Linked DNA regions of Homo sapiens. The gene in region 1 interacts genetically with each later gene. Each region holds a gene or a part of one and is shown in the gene's direction. Other genes may lie near its edges. The genes, in order: TBCB, YTHDC1, MZT1, CDK12, CCNK and MCM3AP.

Evidence for each region.
Region 2: changes in TBCB (region 1) and YTHDC1 together harm fitness less than expected from each alone (positive genetic interaction), as found in Homo sapiens cells (one large-scale study listed by BioGRID).
Region 3: changes in TBCB (region 1) and MZT1 together harm fitness less than expected from each alone (positive genetic interaction), as found in Homo sapiens cells (one large-scale study listed by BioGRID).
Region 4: changes in TBCB (region 1) and CDK12 together harm fitness less than expected from each alone (positive genetic interaction), as found in Homo sapiens cells (one large-scale study listed by BioGRID).
Region 5: changes in TBCB (region 1) and CCNK together harm fitness less than expected from each alone (positive genetic interaction), as found in Homo sapiens cells (one large-scale study listed by BioGRID).
Region 6: changes in TBCB (region 1) and MCM3AP together harm fitness less than expected from each alone (positive genetic interaction), as found in Homo sapiens cells (one large-scale study listed by BioGRID).

What each region holds. Positions count from the first base shown.
Region 1 is NC_000019.10:36,121,968-36,125,467, forward strand, and holds part of TBCB (tubulin-folding cofactor B), read left to right. Parts: exon of another isoform or gene 1-206; intron 207-3,483; coding exon 3,484-3,500.
Region 2 is NC_000004.12:68,336,591-68,340,090, reverse strand, and holds part of YTHDC1 (YTH domain-containing protein 1), read left to right. Parts: intron 1-1,706; coding exon 1,707-1,808; intron 1,809-2,190; coding exon 2,191-2,519; intron 2,520-2,640; coding exon 2,641-3,064; intron 3,065-3,500. UniProt on the Homo sapiens protein: Regulator of alternative splicing that specifically recognizes and binds N6-methyladenosine (m6A)-containing RNAs.
Region 3 is NC_000013.11:72,721,130-72,724,629, reverse strand, and holds part of MZT1 (mitotic-spindle organizing protein 1), read left to right. Parts: intron 1-3,500. UniProt on the Homo sapiens protein: Required for the recruitment and the assembly of the gamma-tubulin ring complex (gTuRC) at the centrosome.
Region 4 is NC_000017.11:39,520,486-39,523,985, forward strand, and holds part of CDK12 (cyclin-dependent kinase 12), read left to right. Parts: intron 1-3,500. UniProt on the Homo sapiens protein: Cyclin-dependent kinase that phosphorylates the C-terminal domain (CTD) of the large subunit of RNA polymerase II (POLR2A), thereby acting as a key regulator of transcription elongation.
Region 5 is NC_000014.9:99,487,909-99,491,408, forward strand, and holds part of CCNK (cyclin-K), read left to right. Parts: intron 1-3,500. UniProt on the Homo sapiens protein: Regulatory subunit of cyclin-dependent kinases that mediates activation of target kinases.
Region 6 is NC_000021.9:46,272,112-46,275,611, reverse strand, and holds part of MCM3AP (germinal-center associated nuclear protein), read left to right. Parts: intron 1-286; coding exon 287-426; intron 427-2,026; coding exon 2,027-2,224; intron 2,225-2,782; coding exon 2,783-3,051; intron 3,052-3,500.

The sequences.
Region 1 (3,500 bases):
GCACGCGGCCTGTGCGCTTCGAAGCGTGGGGCAGTGTCAGTCGCGGTGGGGAAACGGGCGGCGTGACCAAGGCAGGAGTGAGGGAACACAGGGGGCTGTGTGAGCCCAGAGGAAGCACCTGGAGGCTGGGAGCATCTGAAGGAAAGGAGGCAGCAGCCAGGTGAAAAGGGAGGAAGAGTTCCCGCCAGAAGGAGTAGCGGGTGCAGGTGAGCAGAGCGCAGGAGGTCCACCTGGGGAAGGGGAGCGGGAGGAGAGGGGAGAAGTGTAGTCAGGGGCATGGGCAGGGCGGCGTCACAGTGGAGAGCAGTGTGGATTTTTTTAAAAAGAACAGGCTAGGCATGATGGCTCACGCCTGTAAACTCAGCACTTTGGGAGAACAAGGTGGGAGGCTTGCTTGAGCCCCGGAGTTGGAGGTTACAGTGAGCTATGATTGTGTCATTGCACCCTAGCCTGGGCAGCAGAGAAAGACCCAGTCTCAAAAAAAAGGCTGGGTGCAGTGGCTCACACCTGTAATCCCAGCACTTTGGGAGGCTGAGACAGGAGGATCACTTGAACCCAGGAATTTGAGACCAGCCTGGGCAACATAATGAGACCCTGTCTCTACAAAAAAAAAAAAAAAAAAATCCCACAAAACTTTTGTCAGTTGTGGTGGTGAGCACCTATAGGTGCCCCAGCTACTTGGGAGGCTGAGGTGGGAGGATGGCTTGAGCCCGGGAGTTGAGGCTGCAGTGAGCTATGATCGCACCACTGCACTGCAGCCTGGGTGACAGAGGGAGACCCTGTCTCCAAAAAAAAAAAAAAAAAAAGATACACGGGGTACATATATGTATTGTTACATGGGTGTGTTGCCTGCTAGTGGGTGGGGACCGGGCTTCTAGTGTACCCATGACCCAAATTGTGAACATCGTACCCAACAGATAATTTTTCAACCCTCACCACCCTCCTGTTTCTGGCATCCCCACTGTCTGGTATTTCCGTCTTTATGCCTGTGTGTACCCATCCCCCAGTCGTCTTCAGCCACTAATTTACGTCTGTCTCTAATTTGCCGATTCTGGATGTTTCATAGGAATAGGATCATGCAGTCTGTGGCCTTTTGTAACTGGCGCCTTCCACTGAGCAGAATGCTTTCAAGTTTCATCCGTGGCATGCCTGTGTCAGTGCCACACTGTTGCCAAATAGTCCTGCATTGAGCGCCTAGACCACAGTGTATCCAGTCACCAGTTAGTGGACATTAGGGTCATTTCCACTTTTTGGCTATTATGAATAATGCTGCTATGAACCTTCTTCTTTTTTTTTTTTTTTTTTTTCTAATTTGAGACAGCATCTGGCTATTGCCCAGGCTGGAATGCAGTGGCACAATCTCGGCCATTTCAGCCTTAACCTCTTGGGCTCAAGCCATCCTCCCACCTCGGCCTCCTGAGTAGCTGGGAATACAGGTACTCATCACCACCCCCGGCTAAAGTTTTGTGGTTTTTTTTGTAGGATGGGATTTCGCCATGTGGCCCAGGCTGGTCTCAAACTCTTCCCGCTCAAGTGATCGTCCTGCTTCAGCCTCCCAAAGTGCTGGGATTACAGGTGTGAGCCACCATGCTAGGCCTGAACATTCTTTTATAAATTTCTGTGTGGCTGGGCATGGTGGCTCATGCCTGTAATTCCAGCACTTTGGGAGGCCAAGGTGGGCAGATCACCTGAGATCAGGAATTTTGAGACCAGCCTGGCCAACATGGTGAAACCCCATCTCTACTAAAAATTCAAAAATTAACTGGGCGTGGTGGCGGGTGCCTGTGATCGCAGCTACCCGGAAGGCTGAGGCAGGAGAATCGCTTGAGCCTGGGAGGCGGAGGTTGCAGTGAGCCAAGATCACACCACTGCACTCCAGCCTGGGCAACCATGCAAGACTCCATCTCAAAAAATAAAAAATACATTTTTATGTGGACATTTGTTTTCATTTCTCTGTGCCTAGGAGTGGAATCCCTGGGCCACATGGTAACACTGTGCTTGACTTTTTTGAGGACCTGCCACACTGCTTCCCACAGCCGCTGCAGCAGTTTTCATTCCCGCCAGCAGTGCAGAAGGGTCCCATTTTGTCCTCATCCTCACCAGCACTTTAGTCTGTCTTTTGCTTACAGTCATCCACTGGGTGTGAAGTGGAACATCATCATGGTTTTGATTTGCACTTCTTTGGCAGCTAATGATGTTGAGCATCTTTGCATGGCCATTTGTGTATCTTCTTTGGAGAAATGTCTATTCAGATCCTTTGCCTTTTGTTTTTTGACACACAGTCTCACTCCGTCACCCAGGCTGGAGTGCAGTGGTGCTCTCAGCTCACTGCATCCTCTGCCTCCCGGGTTCAAGCAATTCTCATGCCTCAGCCTCCCGAGTAGCTGGGATTATAGGTGAGCGCTACAACACCTGGCTAATTTCTGTATTTTTAGTAGAGACAGGGTTTTGCCATGTTGGCCAGGCTGGTCTCAAACTCCTGGCCTCAAGTGATCCACCTGAGCTGGTGGATCTCCCAAAGTGCTAGGATTACAAACATGAGCCACTGCGCCCATCGGTATGTCGGGGTTTGGTTTTGTTTTTTTTCTTTTGAGACGTAATCTCGCTTTGTGCCCAGGCTGGAATACAGTGGCATGATCTCAGCTCGCTCGTTCCAACCTCCGCCTCCCGGGTTCAAACGGTTCTCCTGCCTCAGCCTCCCGAGTAGCTGGAACTACAGGCGCCCGCCACCACACCCGGCTAATTTTTTGTATTTTTAGTAGAGACGGGGCTTCACCGTGTTAGCCAGGATGGTCTCGATCTCCTGACCTCGTGATCCACCCTCCTCAGCCTACTAAAGTGCTGGGATTACAGGCGTGAGCCACCGCACCCGGCCAGTATGTCATCTTTTGAGAAGTGTGTGTTCATGTCCTTTGGCCATGATCGTGGCTCACTGCAGCCTCAACTTCCTGTTGCCCACTTTGTAATGGGATTTTTTTTTTGCAAAGTGGGTGTTCTTTGAGTTCCTTGTATATTCTTCTGCTCAGTTTTTCATTGGGATGCTGTCTTTTGTCGCTGAGTTGTGTATTAGTTTGCTAACAAAGTACCACTCACTGAGCAACTTAAAGTTATTTCTCACAGTAATGGAGGCTAGAAGTTCAAGATCAAGCTGTCAGCAGGTTGGATTTATTCTGAAGCCTCTCTCTCTGGCAAGGCAGTAGTGCCATCCCCCTTAGGTTTTTACAAAGCCCTCACTGGCTGGTGTCTTCACCCAGTGAATGGGGGACAGGGGTGGAAGCAGGGACACCAGTGAAGTGGCTACCATATTAGTCCCGGCAGGAGCTGGAGGTGGTCCTAGTGGTAGCAATAGAGGTAGCAAGAAATGGTTTTCACCAAGACAGGCTTCTACTCAATGGGTAGGCATGGATCCAGGGTGATCCTGAAATTTCATGGGGATTTCTTCTATGTCCAGAAGCTTCACAGGGATTTCTCTTCTGTTGGCAGGTCTCACAGATTTCAAG
Region 2 (3,500 bases), on another chromosome or scaffold:
AAGCCACAAATGTAATTGTTCTGTCTCATCAGTTTTCATGGCTTTATACTTCCTCTTTGGCACACCTTAAATTTGGAAAGATGTTTTTGATATTGGAATAGTTAATGTTTAAACATTTACTATTAGCATTAGTACATTTTAAAATTTAAAATGGTATTTGTGTGTATTTCTAAGGTTTATCTTGTTGGACAAGGTAGAAGTGGGGACAAAACTGAGTTTTATGCTTTCATGATCATTGAATAAAGTCATAGTTCCCTTCTCTGAACAAGTTTTGTGCTTTTACAGTCCACACCAGCAGGCTCTAAATGTTTTTTTTATTATATAGCACATTGATAATTTTTTCATTTAACTTGCAGTTTGACATAATTTCAGATAAGCATAATAGCTACAAGTGCAGTGTGAAGAATTTTCTTTTACTCTCCAAACACATTCTGCAGATGTTAGCATTTTGTCACATTTGTCTCATTCTGTGTGTCTGTGTGTGTACGTGCATGTGTGCACACTTTTTTCCTGAACCATTTGTAAGTTGTAGACATAATATATCTTTGTCCCTAAATACTTAAATATGTGTTATAAGGACTTTGACTTAACCATAGTACAGTCAAAATTAGAAAAATAACATTGCTACTTACTCTGATTTACAAACTTTATTCAGATTTCACCAGTTTTTCCAATTATGTCCAATATTGTGGGCTGTGTTCAGTTATCATGCCTCTCTAGGTCTGCTTTGATATGAAATAGTTCTTACTCTTTGTTTCATGACAGTGACATATTTGGATGCCCTTTAATTTGGGTTTGTCTGATTTTTTTCCTCATGTAGGTTCAGCTTTTCCATTTTGCATAGAACATTACAAAAGCATTGTTCTATTCTCAGAGCATTGTTACAGGAGGTCCATGATGTTGATTTGTCTCATTACTGGTGATGTTAACTTTGATTATCTGGTTAATTTGGCCTGTGAAACATTTCTCCACTGTAAAGTCGTTTTCCCTTTGTAATTGTGGAGAGTGCACATTTTTGGTAAATGTGTATTTATAAGTTGTACATACGTATTTGTATACTAATTTATTGTACACATTTTAAAGCCCTCAGAAATATTAGAAATTAAAGAATGAGGTAAAAATAGAGACATTCTTGCATTTTCTTTTTATGCCTCAGTATATCTTTTCATGCCTTCTGAGATGTATACTCCTGGCTTTGTAGACCAGATAGCCCAGACTTCTGTTTGTGTGTGTGTGTGTATTTTGAGAAACTCACTCTTATCGCCCAGGCTGGAATGCAGTGGCACAATCTTGGCTTACTGCAACCTCTGCTTCCCAGGTTCAAGTGATTCTTGTCCCTGAGCCTTCTGAGTAGCTGGGGTTAAAGGCATGTGCCACCATGCCCTGCTAATTTTTGTATTTTTAGCAGAGCAGGGTTTTGCCATGTTGGCCAGGCTGGTCTCAAACTCCTGGCGTCACGTGATTGGCCTGCCTCAGCCTCCCAAAGTGCTGGGATTGCAGGCATGAGCCACCACGACTGGCCAATTCTTTACCCTGTATTAGTTTTATAGAAATTAATCTTGTGTCTTGATTCTGAAATAAAAGTAAAGCTTTTTATATAAAAGTAAAAGCTCCTAGGCGCTTGTGGCCTCACACTTAGTAAGTACTCAAAAATACATGTTCAATGATAGTGATTTTTCCCTATTAATTTTTAATTTTATTTGCAGATGGAGAACTTAATGTTCTGGATGATATTTTAACTGAAGTACCAGAACAAGATGATGAACTGTATAATCCAGAGAGTGAACAAGATAAAAATGAGAAAAAGGGTATGTAAGAGTTCTATTATTTTTGTTGAAATAACAGTATAAATAGAGGAGATTCAATTTCTTAAAAAAAATGACTGTGCTTTTTTGTGCTTGTTCCTTGAGGCAGTTAACACTAAATGTACATAATAAACTGGTATCCATATGAATAGGGATAATCTGTTTTTTTCTAATATATGAAACTTCTCAAATATATGGTTTTATTCCCATAGTTGAAAGCTATGTTTTCTTTTAGATTAACTCTGGAGAAGAAATCTCTCAGAAGACTTTTAAAGAAATGAGGCCTATCCCCCCTTCCTGATGTATATATTATTGTCAGTCTTTGGTGAAATAAATGGAATACTACAAATACTTCTTTTTTTTTTTTTTACATTGTATTTTAAAGGATCAAAAAGAAAAAGTGATCGAATGGAATCTACTGATACCAAACGACAAAAGCCTTCTGTCCATTCTAGACAACTGGTTTCTAAGCCACTGAGCTCATCTGTTAGCAATAACAAAAGAATAGTTAGTACAAAAGGAAAGTCAGCCACAGAGTATAAAAATGAGGAATATCAAAGATCTGAAAGAAACAAGCGTCTAGATGCTGATCGGAAAATTCGTCTATCAAGTAGTGCCTCCAGAGAACCTTATAAGAATCAACCTGAAAAAACCTGTGTCCGGAAAAGGGATCCTGAAAGGAGGGCCAAATCTCCTACGCCAGATGGTTCTGAGGTAGTAAATATTATTGCAGATATAAAACAGAAAGCCATTCTTTTTGAGGCTTTAGAACTGTTTATTCACCCTGACCTTGTCTTTTATATGACTGCTGATTCCCTTTTTCTTTAAACATCAGAGAATTGGGCTTGAAGTGGATAGACGTGCAAGCAGATCCAGCCAGTCTTCTAAGGAAGAAGTGAACTCTGAAGAATATGGCTCTGACCATGAGACTGGCAGCAGTGGTTCTTCTGATGAGCAAGGGAACAACACTGAGAATGAGGAGGAAGGAGTGGAAGAAGATGTGGAGGAAGATGAAGAAGTAGAAGAAGATGCAGAAGAAGATGAAGAGGTGGATGAAGATGGAGAGGAGGAGGAGGAAGAGGAGGAGGAGGAAGAGGAGGAGGAGGAGGAGGAAGAAGAAGAATATGAACAGGATGAGAGAGACCAGAAAGAGGAGGGAAATGATTATGACACTCGAAGTGAGGCCAGTGACTCTGGTTCTGAATCTGTTTCCTTCACAGATGGGTCTGTCAGATCTGGTTCAGGCACAGATGGATCAGGTACTACTTTTTATATGTAAAAGTTTGTCTTAAAAAAAGCTTGATAGGTTTCAGTCTTGAAAATGTTTAAATTATAAAATTGTTGAGGAGATGGGGGATATTAATAGGATTGTCTTGTGATCCTTTATATGCTTTTGAATGTTATAAATACATTTGAATAATCTTGGATAAGATTTACATATTTTAGGAAAGGCATTTCCTAGCTACAGAATGGTTGTGTTGTAAATGAACACAAGTCCATTTGATTCTGTATAAGGAAATGTATTTCAGATTTCTGTAAATTCTTAGATTTTCATACCAGTCAGCAGTTTATTTAAACACTGATGTACTTGAAGTATATTCATAGGAAACCTGTCCACTGGGTATTACAGTATTTCCTTGGTAAAATACCCCTAGATTTCCATCATATGGCTTCAGAATCAAAACAGATTATTTC
Region 3 (3,500 bases), on another chromosome or scaffold:
GAGGCGAAGGTTGTCGTGAGCTGAGATTGCGCCACTGCACTGCAGACTGGGTGACAGAGCTAGACTCCATCTCAAAAAAAAAAAAAAAAACACGTTATAGAGAAAGGAGTTAAGAGAATCTATGGTATATAGATTCCATTTGACTAGCACTGCAAGGCAGTACCAGCGAAACAGTCCATGCTACCACCATCAATCCAGTTGCACATTTGAGAAAGAAATCTAGAAGTCAGTCTTGCTTTCTCACCTCCTCTGCCTCCTGTTCTTCACTAAGCCCTTTCAATTCTTGACTCATTTCAGGTTGGCTAAATATCTCCTGTTCATCCTACCCACCAGTCTTTTATCAAAATTGTGATATAACTGGACTTTTTAAAGATTCATTTGATACTCAGCCAAAAAGTCCTTAAAATGCAAGTTTGATTTTTTTATGTTCCTATTTTATATCATCCAGTAGCTTTCCACAGTTCTAAGATCTTCACTAGGACTTACCTCATATTTTATACCCATTCACCCCGTTAATTACATTGCCTTCACAATAGCAGTTCAGGTCTGAATTTACCAAGTTCCCTCTAGTGTAGGGACCATCACACAAGCTGTTTTCTTTGCTCTCAACCATCACCCTTCCTCCTGCCTCTGTATTAGTCTGGTTGATTTCTACTCACTTTTGATGTCTAAGTGTAATTGTCACTTCTTCAGACAAGTCTTTGCTAAACACTGTGTCCTTCCAAACTTGGTAAGATGCCCTTGTAATTTGTTTCAGAAGTATTCCACTCTTTATTTATTTTACTTATATCTGGAATCAGTTATTACTTTAATATCTATCTCTCCTCCTGGACTAATATCTGTGAGGAGTGGGACCATATATACCTTGTTCATAACTGTATTTGCAGCAGTAGCATAATAGGCACAAAATACATATAGTTAGAGGTTGATTATCTCTCATCCAAAAACCTTGGGACCATGTTTTGGATTTCAGATTTTTTTTTTTGTAATATTTTCACATACATAATGAGATATCTTGGGGATGGGACCCAAGTCCAAACACAGAATTCTTGTATGTTTTATATATACCTTATACACATAGCCTGAAGGTAATTTTGGTTTTTTCCCTCAGGGATGCTGAATGAACTGTGTATTGTGCACCTGCATTTTGACTTTGATCCATTATATGAGGTGTGGAATTTTCCACTACGGTGTTATGTCAGTACTTAATAAGTTTTGGATTTTGCGGCATTTCACATTTCAGATTTTGGAATTAGGAGTGTTCAACCTGTACTGATCATATGGTAGGCACTAAAGAAATAGTTTTTGATTACAGGCGATTTGTGAAAATAGGAAGTAAAAATAGGTGTCCATTTGAAAAGAAGGCTTAAAGAAGAAACCACAAATGAGATGGACTAAGAAAACAGCATTGAGTTATATGAAGGGAGGATAAAAGGCAGAGGAGAAAAGCAAGAACAAAGGCATGAAGTCAGGAATAAGCATAGCCTTTATACGTGGGGGGGTCTACCATGAAGAGAACAAACTGGAAACTGGAGAGAGAAGGGAGAGAATCAACTGAAAAACTGTTAGAAGCATCATAGAATTCATCAAGGTGACTGGTGATTAAAAAGTTTAATATGTAGTGTTCCAGTATACTGATGGTAACCACTTAGAATGTACAAGGGCTAAGTAGAATCCATTTGTGAAGACAGTCAAAAATAAAGTGAAGATTCAATATGGTAGATTGAGCACTTGCTGAAACTCTAAGCATATAAAAAAATAGGAAATAGTAAGAAAATATAATTATCAGGATAGACCTGTTCAAAAGCAAGAAGGGAAGTCTCCATTGATTAGGAAGAGAGAGGTTTCCCCCCAAAAGAAAGGAGCAGATGGGAACCACAGCAGGGGATTGTCGGGAATAGAATCTGACAAAGCATGCTACCCTGCCTCACTGAAGTTGGGAGTCAGAAATGTGCCATTTGTCACAGCCAGAGATTGAGAAGCACCATCCATGTGTTTTTTGGATCTGGACCAAAAATACTACAAGGCCTGATCTAGAGGCCTAAAGCTAGGGTACGGCTTCCTATCTTAGAATGGGCCACCAGTCCAGGACACCTAAAATAAATCTATGGAAGATGAGTTTTCAGCCAAGAATGACAAAGCACCTAAGGTAGATGAAAAACATGAGCAACTAACATGGAAAAGGAAAAAGAGGGAAAGTGGTAGTAACAGGGAACTCTTTTTTATTGAGCCCTACCGTATGCCAAGCACCATTCCAAAGGACTGCAAGGCAGTGTCAGCAAAACAAATGGATACCATTCTAAGTGTATCCTTTAATTCTCACACTAATCCTTTAAAACAGGTACTCTTATTATCCTCACTTTCGAGAATGGTGAAATAAGGCACAGAGAGAGTAACTTGCCTACTAAATACTACAGCTAGAATTTGAACACAGGTAGTCTGGCTCTAGAGATCACACTCCTAACCACTGTCTTTTGCTGCTTGCTTATACTCCAAGAAATAGAGATAATAGAGCAATCTCAAATACAGTTTAAGAATATAGCCTTAAATAGACGAAGGCAGGAACAACAGCTGTGAAATTTGTCACTATAAATAAGCATTTAGTTATAAAACAAGTGTTTATGGTGAGAAATTAGAAATTAGAAATCTTGAAAGCTACTGAAATAAATTTGAAATAAATTCAGCAGATAATATGAATAACAGGCTGGATACAGCTGAAGAGCAAAGTATCAGTAAATTGGAATATCAAAACTGAAGAAATGAAAATGGGAAGAGCTGTCATCTTCCAGCCAAGATGGAGTAACAGAGATTAGATTTATGCTTCTACTTGAAACAACCAAGAAAACTCAGGTAAAGCATACAGAACAATGGTTTTCAAGACACTGGACATCAGGCATCAGAGTACAGTGATCCCTTAGAGACAGGAAACAAGCAAAGTGATTTCTTGGGTTGCCCCAGCTCACTGCCTTCAGAGAGTTCCAGGCCTCAGTATAGCAGGGAGAACCCAGTGGACACACTGAAGTGAGTAGGAGGAGTTTAGAAGACCTGGGAGACCAAGGCAGGTAGAGTTTGAATAACAGTACCTGAGAGGGGAGAACTGCACAGAAAGAATGCTGGAGATCTGTAGAAGTGTCCCCCTTAAGTATTCAGAGCATTGATTAGCAGATGTGTGAGGAAAGTACTCAGAAAGCTGGGAGGGAACCATCTAGAAGGATTAGAGTGAACCGTGCACCGTGCTTACACAGGGCTGAGGATAGTGCCTGTAACTACCAGCCAGAATGGAAATCTTTGTAATTCATAAGACATTGGATACAGTACTCAGAATTCTTACCTCAATCATAAGGGGAATAATTAGCCCTATCCTAAACAGGGCTCTGGTCCTGCCTAACAGATCTAAGAAGTAATATCCGAAAGGATCAAACCATTTCCAGATAACGGTATCTCATTATAAAGCTCAAGAATTAGAAATACAAAACTATCCGGTACCTAAGTAAAATTCT
Region 4 (3,500 bases), on another chromosome or scaffold:
GTTCAAGCGATTCTCCTGCCTCAGCCTCCCGAGTAGCTGGGACTACAGACACACACCACCACACCCAGCTAATTTTTGTATTTTTAGTAGAGACGGGGTTACACCTTGCTGGCCCAGCTGGTCTCGAACTCCTGACCTCAGGTGACCCACCCTGGCCTCCGAAAGTGCTGGGATTACAGGCGTAAGCCACTGCGTCCAGCGTGTTTTTGTTGTTGTTGTTGTTGTTGTTGTTTTGAGATGGAATCTTGCTCTGCCTCCTCCACCTCCCGGGTTCTAGCGATTCTCCTGCCTTAGCCTTGCAAGTAGCTAGGATTACAGGTGCCTGCCACCACACCCGGCTAATTTTTTTGTATTTTTGTTTCATTTTGTTTTGTTTTTTGAGATGGAGTTTCGCTCTTGTTCCCCAGGCTGGAGTACAATGGCGCAATCTCAGCTCGCCGCAACCTCTGCTTCCCAGGTTCAAGCGATTCACCTGCCTCAGCCTTCCCAAGCTGAAATTACAGGCACGTGCCACCATGCCCAGCTAATTTTGTGTTTTTAGTAGAGACAGAGTTTCTCCATGTTGGTCAGGTTGGTCTCGAACTCCCGACCTCAGGTGATCTGCCCACCTCGGCCTCCCAAAGTGCTGGGATTACAGGCATGAGCCACAGTGCCTGGCCATTTTTTTGTATTTTTAGTAGAGATGGGGTTTCACCATGTTGGCCAGGCTGGTCTTGAACTCCTGCCCATCTTGGCCTCTCAAAGTGCTGGGATCACAGGTGTGAGCCACCGTGCCTGGCCTGTTTGTTTGTTTGTGTGTTTTGAGACGGAGTTTCACTCTTCGCATCCAGGCTGGAGTGCAGTGGTGTGATATTGGCTCACTGCAATCTCCGCCTCCCAGTTTCAAGCAATTCTCCTGCCTCAGCCTCCCAAGTAGCTGGAATTACGCCACCATGCCCGGCTAATTTTTGTATTTTTAGTAGAGACAGGGTTTCATCACGTTGGCCGGGCTGATCTTGAACTCCTGGCCTCAGGTGATCCGCCCGCCTTGGCCTCCCAAGGTGCCGGGATTACAGATGTGAGCTACTGCTCCCAGCCTTTTTTGTTTTTTCCGAGACGGAGTCTCGCTCTGTCGCCCAGGCTGGAGTGCAGTGGCGTGATCTCGGCTCACTGCAACCTCCATCTCCTGGATTCAAGCAGTTCTCCTGTCCCAGCCTACTGAGTAGCTGGGATTATAGGCGCAGGCCACCACGCCCGACTAATTTTTTTGTATTTTTAGTAGAGACAGGGTTTCACCATGTTGGCCAAGGTGGTCTCAAACTCCTGACTTCAGGTGATCTGCCTGCCTCAGCCTCCCAAAGTGTTGGGATTACAGGCATGAGCCACCACTCCCAGCCTTTTTTTTTTTTTTTCCAATTGTAGAAATGGAGTCTCACAATGTTGTCCAGACTGTCTCAAACTCCTGGGCTCAAGTGATTCTCCCGCCTCAGCCTTCCAAAGTCATGGGATTACAGGCAGGAGACACATGCTTGGCCTCCCTCTGGTTTTTGCTCTTAACCATTCCTCCAGCTGTAATCATGCATGTCTCTGGTGACCATGTATATCTCACACTTGCAGAGATAGTCCCAGTTTTTTGGGGTTTTTTTTGTTATTATTTTTTTTGAGACAGAGTTTCACTCTTGTTGCCCAGGCTGGAGTGCAGTGGTGTGATCTCGACTCACCACAAGCGTTTCCTGCCTCAGCCTCCCGAGTAGCTGGGATTACAGGTATGCGCCCCCATGCCTGGCTAATTTTGTATTTTTAGTAGAAACAGAGTTTCACCATATTGGTGAGACTGGTCTTGAAGTCCCGACCTCAGGTAATCTGCCTGCCTCGGCCTCCGAAAGTGCTGGGATTACAGGCGTGAGCCACTGAACCCGGCCAACAGTCCCAGTTTTAAATGGTTTGCATCACTGCCAGTTTTTTTTGTTGTTTTTGTTTTTTTCTGAGACAGGGTCTCTCACTCTGTCACCCAGGCTGGAGTGCAGTGGCACAATCTCAACTCACTGCAACCTCCACCTCCCGGCTTCAAGCGATTCCCGTGCCTCAGCCTCCTGAGTAGCTGGATTACAGGAGCCCGGCACCACAGCTGGCTAATTTTTGTATTTTTAGTAGAGATGAGGTTTCACCATGTTGACCAGACTTGTCTCCAATTCCTGACCTCAGGTGATTCGCCTGCCTCGTCCTCCCAAAGTGCTGTGATTATAGGCGTGAGCTACCGCACCCAGCCAGATTACTGAATTTTGATGTAAGAAATAAGATCTTTCGGTCGAGCGCGGTCGCTCACACCTGTAATCCCAGCACTTTGGGAGGCCGAGGTGGATGGATCACCTGAGGTCAGGAGTTCAAGAGAGCCTGGCCAACATGGTAAAACCCCGTCTCTCCTAAAAATACAAAAAATTAACCAGGTGTGGTGGTGTATGCTTGTAGTCCTGGCTACTCAGGAGGCTGAGGGAGGAGAATCGCCTGAACTCGGGAGGTGGAGGTTGCAGTGAGCCGAGATTGTGCCAGTGCATTCCTGCCTAGACCATAGAGTGATACTCCATCTCAAAAAATTAAAGTAACATAAAAGAAATATGATCTTTTAATATGTCTCTATTTAATTAAAATCTTATGAATGCCTCTGTATTGTATTGGAGCTTCAGAGATTCATATCCCACATTATAGCACATAAAAAGTCTTTTATCTGGCCTGGCACGGTGGCTCATGCCTGTAATCCCAGCACTTTGGGAGGCTGAGGCAGGCAGATCACCTGAGGTCATGAGTTCGAGACCAGTTTGGCCAACATAGTGAAACCCCGTCTCTACTAAAAAATACAAAAATTAGCCAGGCGTAGTGGCGTGTACCTGTAGTCCCAGCTACTCAGGGAGACTAAGGCAGGAGAATCACTTGAACCTGGGAGGCGGAGGTTGCAGTGAACTGAGATTGCACCACTGCACTCTAGCCTGGGCAACAGAGCAAGACTCTGTCTCAAAAGAAAAAGAAAAAAAAAGTATTTTATCTTTGAATTTGTCAGTGACAGTATTATAGCTTTAATGTCAAATTTTGGAGGTCATTTTCTTAAGAAAGACTACATGTCTTAAAAATGGATAGGATGTTAGTTCATGAGTAGGTAGTAATTCTAAATCTGATTGCTCCAAAGAAATGTCCAAATTCATTTATTTTTTTGAGACAGACTCTTGTTCTGTTGCTCAGGCTGGAGTGCAGTGGTGTGATCTCGGCTCACTGCAGCCTCCACCTCCCAGGTTCAAGCAATCCTCCTGCTTCAGCCTCCTTAGTAGCTGGGATTACAGGCACACACCACCACACTTGGCTAATTTTTGTATTTTTAGCAGAGACCAGGTTTCACCATGTTGCCAGGCTAGTCTCGAACTCCTGACCTCATGATCCGCCTGCCTCTACCTCCCAAAGTGCTGGGATTACAGGCATGAGCTGCCGCGCCCAGCCAAATTCATTTATTACACTAGAATGTTGATACATTG
Region 5 (3,500 bases), on another chromosome or scaffold:
GATTGATGAAGATAAGGAGTCCTCCTGGTCTCCTATTCAGTCTCATCTGACTTTTTCCCCAACTTTTTATTGTATGAAAGAATAGTGCAATGACAACTTATTTACCTGTGGACACATGTTCGTTTTTTGCCATGTTTACTGTGTGGTTGTGTTTTAGCTGAACCATTTGAAAGTAGGTTGCAGACATCATGACACTTTACCCAAAATACTTCAGCCTTCATCTGCTAAGAATAAAGTCATTCTCCTGTGTAATCACAATATCATTATTACCCCCAAAGAAAATTAACTGACAGTAATTCCCTCCCTAATACCCTCTAATATACAATTTATACTTAAATTTTTCCAAATTGTTTGAAATTTCTTTTTTTTAAAAAAAAAAAAAAAGCAGGATCTAATCAAGGTTCACACATTGCATTTTGTTGTAGCCCTCTTTAGCCTTTTTAAATCTAAGACAGTCTCTCAAAATGTTTTTTCATAACACTGTTTTGAAGAGACCGGGTCAGTTGTTGAGTAGAGTGTCTCACCTTCTGGATGTGACTGATAGTTTCCATGTTGTGCTTTTTTCACTTACTCTTGTACCACCAGTATTTATTGTAAACTGGAAGTTCGGTCAAAAGTTTGCTTAAATTTAGGTTAAGCTTTTGGGGGACAAGAATACTACATAGGTAGGTGATATTTATTTCACATTGCATCACATCAGAAGCCATGTAATGTCAGGTTTTCACCCTATTAGTGATGTCAAGTGTGATCATTTTGTTAAGGATCAACTGTATTTTTTTTACAGTAGTTAATATCCATGCTAGCAAAGTCGCATTTATTATCAGTAGCATTTTATTATCAGTAGTTATCAGTGCTAGCAAAGTATTATTCTCTATATGTATTAATATTATGGACACTTGGATTGTATGTTCACTATTTTATGATCAACCACAGTTATTTTTCTTTTTGCTATTCAAATTACCTTGGATTAGTCCAGTGGGCACCCATCATGGTGGCTCCTATGTCTTTTTTTTTTTTTTCCCTAGCAAATCATTCCTTCAGCAGTCCTATGTCTTTTGATAAGCTTTGATTAGTCTGAGTACATCCCAGGCAGGCTCCAACCCCAGACTGGAAAGAAACCTGCTTCCTTTTAGAGGGTATTGGTATTGAAAAAGTTAAGATTTCAGAATTAGGAGTGTCATTCCTTCTTGGTACTTGAAAAGGACAGAAATGGGATACATATATATATATTTTTTTTTAACCATGATTTATTTTGATATCTTCAGTTAAAGTTTAACATTACAGATTTGTTTCTTAACATTTGGTTTTCTGCATGTGTGCATTTGTTTTCTTTGCACTGAAAATCTTGGTTCCTAACAACATTAGCATTTACATATTTGCTTTATTCCACAACATGCAAAAAAAAATGTGTTTGAAAATTACAACATTAATGACACTACTAACAGTACACTAATGAAGTTTTAAAATTTCGTTGGGGCCAGCCACTGTGGCTCATACCCATAATCCTAGCACTTTGGGAGGCTAGGCGGGAGGATCGCTTGAGGCCAGGAGTTCGATGCTGCAGTGAACTAGGATCATGCCACTGCACTTATAGCCTGGGTGACAGAACAAGACTCTGACTCTAAAATAAGTAAGTAAGTAAATAAATAAACAAATAAATAATTCTTTTCAGTTATTTTTGTCCTTAGAATATATCTCACTAAGCATGTAACAATATCAGAAATTACTTGGAAGTAAGTTTCTGTGTGATTTTGTTGCCCATTTGGTTTGAGTTTTAGGATTTGCTTTTTTATTTTTAGTTAAGTGTATGAGTATGTTAAATATTTACATGATTCAAACATCAAAGTTATAAAAGTACTCTGCAGGGAGTCAAGCTGAAAGAGCACCTAATGGCCACATTGGAATAATTTGAGCAACAAAATAAATAATGATAGTATTGGATTATAACCCAAAGAATAAAATACTCATGTCTGTACTAAAGTAAATAAACAAATGGGAGAGAAGAAACAAATATTAACAAAATGATTCCAAATAATAAATGTTGAAGCAGTGAAGGAAATAGAAAGTCACCATTAGAACACCACAGTTGTAATCGTCTCAGGTGAATGCTAAAATTAGTAGATGAAACTTGAAGGAGAAATAGACATTTGTATAGTATTTTGCATTGTAAAATATTTCCCCCAAAATATTTACTTACTAGTGGGTGGTTTTAACATATGTCCACAATTTCTTTGATATCTCTGCCTCCAGAAAGTAGAGCTTAATTCCTTTACCCTTGAGTGTGGGCTGGACCTCGTGACTTGCATCTAAGGAATAGAAGATAGGAAGGGAAAAATAATAATTTACAGTGAGAAACCTGGTAGACTCCATCTTAACCAAGAGCTCATGGTTAACAGCAGTAAGTTGTTCTGATATCACCTGCACCCAAATATGATGTGTAGTTAATAGTGGTTATACCAAAGTTAATTTCTTTTTTTGGATAAATGAACCATGGTTATGGAAGATGTTTACATTGGGGAAGCTAAGTGAAGGGTATAGACAAAACTCATCTATCTTTACAGCTCTTCTGTAAACGTACAATTAGTTTAAAATAAAAGCTTTCATAAAAAGGCAAAGCTGTATAAAAAGATATATACATAGAGAAGTCTTGTTTCCATTCCTGTCTTTTCCATCCTGTTTTTCCCCATTCCTTATTGGTAAATATTTTTTGAATTACTTTAAAAAAATAGAGATGTCTGGCTGGGCGCGGTGGCTCACACCTGTAATTCCAGCACTTTGGGAGGCCGAGGCAGGCGGATCACGAGGTCAGGAGCTCCAGACCATCCCGGCTAACACGGCGAAACCCCATCTCTACTAAAAATACAAAAAAATTAGCCAGGCGTGGTGGCGGGCGCCTGTAGTCCCAGCTACTCGGGAGGCTGAGGCAGGAGAATGGCGTAAACCCAGGAGGTGGAGCTTGCAGTGAGCCGAGATCATGCCACTGGCACTCCAGCCTGGGCAACAGAGCAAGACTCCGTCTCAAAAAAAAAAAAAAAAAGAGATGTCTGTTTTTTCCCCTCCTTTCTTACATAGATGCTAACATACTGTGTACACTATCCTATACCTTGCTGATCTGGAAATTTCTCCATCCAGTACTTAACGATGTTTCTCATTCTTTTTAATAGCTGTGGGGTATGCTATTGTGTGCATGTGTCATATTTTACTCAGCCAGTCCCCTGATGATGGGCGTTTGGGTTGTTCATAGTTTTGCCATTATAAATAACACTACAGTGAATAATCTTGTGCACATGTTGTTTCATAGTTGTGACATTTCATAGTTAGGACAATATTTTCAGAGTCGATTCCCAGCAGTGGGAATCCTGGGTCAAAGAGCAAATGCATGTGTAATTTTGTTGGATATCGTCAACTTCTCTGTGACAGTTGGACCATTTTGTACTCCCACCAGAAGCTTATAAGATCACCTGCTTCTCTATAGCTTTGCCAACAGAGCAAATTGTCAA
Region 6 (3,500 bases), on another chromosome or scaffold:
TGGAGAGGTGACTCGGGGGTCTTTCTCTTAGTCTGCAGTGAGGGTCTGTGACTGTTAGAGAGAGGTGGACTCGGGTCTTTGGGAGCTTTGATGTCCCACTGCCTGGCATAATAGACCATAAGTCCTCTTTGTCTGAGGCTCTGAGTTTTACAAATGTTTTTCTTTTCTTTTGTAATGTGTGTGTGTGTTTTAAGTTTTAATTTCTTTTTATCATTATGAGAATACACTTCTGTAGGTTCGTGCTAACCATGTGGTACATTCTTACCTTTTACTTGACGTCATTTAGCTCGGGTGAAGAGAACCGATCTGGACAAAGCGAGGACTTTTGTTGGCACCTGCCTGGATATGTGTCCTGAGAAGGAGAGGTACATGCGGGAGACCCGTAGCCAGCTGAGCGTGTTCGAAGTGGTCCCAGGGACTGACCAGGTAGAGCCCTGCATCTCCCCGTGGAGTGTGGGCAGGGGACGGGGCTGCTTTTGTCATTTCTGTACATACTTGATTTGGGTGTTTGTTTTAGACAGTGTTGGGTATTTGTGCTATTAACAATCATATTAAGCTGTTTTGCATTGTGAGATGTTCACTCTGTAATTGGTACCTATACATGATAAGGTATAGATGCAAGTTATTTTAAATAAAGTTGTTTTTCAAATTCTTTTTTTTTTTTTTTTTTTTTGAGACAGGGTCTCACTCTGTCACCTAGGCTGAAGTGCAGTGGTCCAATCATGGCTCACTACAGCCTCAACTTCCCAGGCTCAGGTGATCCTCTCCTCTCACTCAGCTTACAGAGTAGCTGGGATTACAGGCATGCTCCACCACGCCTAGTTACTGTTTTATTTTTTGCAGCGATGGGGTCTTGCCGTGTTGCCCAGGCTGGTCCCGAACTCCTAAGCTCAAGTCATCTGCCCACCTCCGCCTCCCAAAGTGCTGGGATTACAGGCGTGAGCCACCACATCCAGCTAACTTTTTTCTTTTTACGATCTTATTCCTGTCTGTTTCTATGCTTATGTTTTACACATTCGAGATTATGCTCTAGATACAATTTTATGTGTATCTTTTCCACTTAAAATTATGTCATGAACATTTTCCTTTGTTAGGGTAAACTATGAGCATTTAAAAATGACAGCATATTATTTTATTAGTAGCTCTGTCAAAACTCTGCATTTTTACCATTAGTAGATAGGCTGCTTCTAAATTTTTAGTTCTATTAGTAATATTGTTTGGCATCTTGTATGTAATGCTTCTCTGGTATTTAGATTATTTTCTTCAGATCCTAAGAATTAAATTACTGCATCAGAGGGTATGACCTTTCCTGAACATTATCCATGTATCTTCCCAAATTGTTGCCCCAGAAAGCTGCACCAATATAGATCCTTTTGGACTTTGTGAATTTTGCTTATGGGCTTCTCCTCTTCCTGGCTGGTGGCTTTATACACCCTTCGCCTGGTGCGGGGTCCCCAGCCCAGCAACTCGTGTCACTGTAGGGCCCCTGCCCCAGGAGAGGCACATGCCCAGGGCCTTGTCCTGTGTACATCTCTGCCTCTTCCCTTGGCCACGTCTTCAGCCTCCTTTTGAGGTGGGAGATGCAATTCCAGGCCCCAGGTGGGCAGCCAGCCCCTGATGCTGTGTCCTCAGCAGTCCTCACCGCCTGTCTCTGTTTCACTTCTGCTCTGTGTAGACTTAATCTGGTGTGTGAGCGGGCCTGAGACCTTTTAAGTGCTTGAGGCCCTTCCCTGTCCCGTCTCTCTGCTTTGGAGGCTAGCAGATGTGCCTTCACTTAACATTCCTCCTGTTTGTCATGACGCACTCATATCTTAACTCCTTGTCATATTTGCCAAAATCAAATTTCTCTATTTGTCTTTGAATTTTGATTGTCACCTTTTAACAGAAATTTTATGTTGAAAAAATATATTCTCAAATACTGATCTTGTGTGGGTGTGTATGTGATTTTCCCCCTCATTTTCAGGCATAACTATGCCTGGCCCAAGGTATGCCACATGGGCATCCTGTCTCGGCTTCATGTCTCTAGGTGGACCACGCAGCAGCTGTGAAAGAGTACAGTCGGTCCTCGGCGGATCAGGAGGAGCCCCTGCCCCACGAGCTGCGGCCCTTGCCAGTGCTCAGCAGGACCATGGACTACCTGGTGACCCAGATCATGGACCAGAAGGAGGGCAGCCTGCGGGATTGGTATGACTTCGTGTGGAACCGCACGCGTGGCATACGGAAGGTATTGGCTGCCTCCAACCTGGATGCTAAAAAATCCACGCAAATTCCAAAGTCAAACTGATATTTTTATTACTCTGTTATATATTTTATCTGTAACAAAAATGTACTTTTGTGGGCCAGGTGCAGTGGCTCAGGCCTGTAATCCCAGCACTCTGGGAGGCCGAGGTGGGTGGATCACCTGAGGTCAGGAGTTTGAGACCAGCCTGGCCAACATGGTTAAACCCCATCTCTACTGAAAATACAAAAATTAGCTTGGCGTGGTGGCACACGCCTGTAGTCCCAGCTACTCGAGCGGCTGAAGCAGAATTGCTTGAACCTGGGAGGCGGAGGTTGTGGTGAGCCAAGATGACACCACTGCACTCCAGCCTGGCTTCTGTCTCAAAAAAAAAAACAAACCCCAGGACTTTTATTTAAGTCACTACAAAGTCCTATTAAAATGTGCATCATGGGCTTTGTTTCAAATTGAAAAGTGAGAAATTGAGGTCGTAGCATGATCCTTCTCACGGTTGCCTCTTTGCATGGGAATGTGTGTGTGATCCTCCCCCTCGCCTGTGGCCAGGATATCACGCAGCAGCACCTCTGTGACCCCCTGACGGTGTCCCTGATTGAGAAGTGCACCCGGTTTCACATCCACTGTGCCCACTTCATGTGTGAGGAGCCCATGTCCTCCTTTGATGCCAAGATCAATAATGAGAACATGACCAAGTGCCTGCAGAGCCTGAAGGAGATGTACCAGGACCTGAGAAACAAGGGTGTCTTCTGTGCCAGCGAAGCGGAGTTCCAGGGCTACAATGTTCTGCTCAGTCTCAACAAGGGAGACATCCTAAGGTGAATTTTCACATCCAAAAGTTGTCCTAAGGTGGCTGAAAAGGCAGGCTTTAAACAGGAGAAGAGCTTTCAGGAGTGGCAGTAGCCAATAGTGCAGCATTCTGTCTGGTAGCAGATGTTGGGATGATAGTAGAGGACCTTGGTCTGGCTTTGCAGTCGGCTGAGCTGAGCTGGGGGAAGAGCGATGGGGGTGTGCCCTGGGACCAGCACATCTGACGTAGGCCCCACATGTTCATTTCTGAAAATAGTTTCTCCTCACCAGTGAGAAAATGAGGAAGGAATCCTCCTCATGAGACAGGTGAGTGAACCAGGAGAGGGAGTTCCAGGTGCCCTGCAAGGTTGTTAGCAGTTCCCTGTTCCCAGATAGTTTTGTCAAAGATCTCAGAATAAGAGAGGAAAAAATTATGTAAAACAAAAATGCGAAGAATGGGGTAGTGAGAATGAATGAA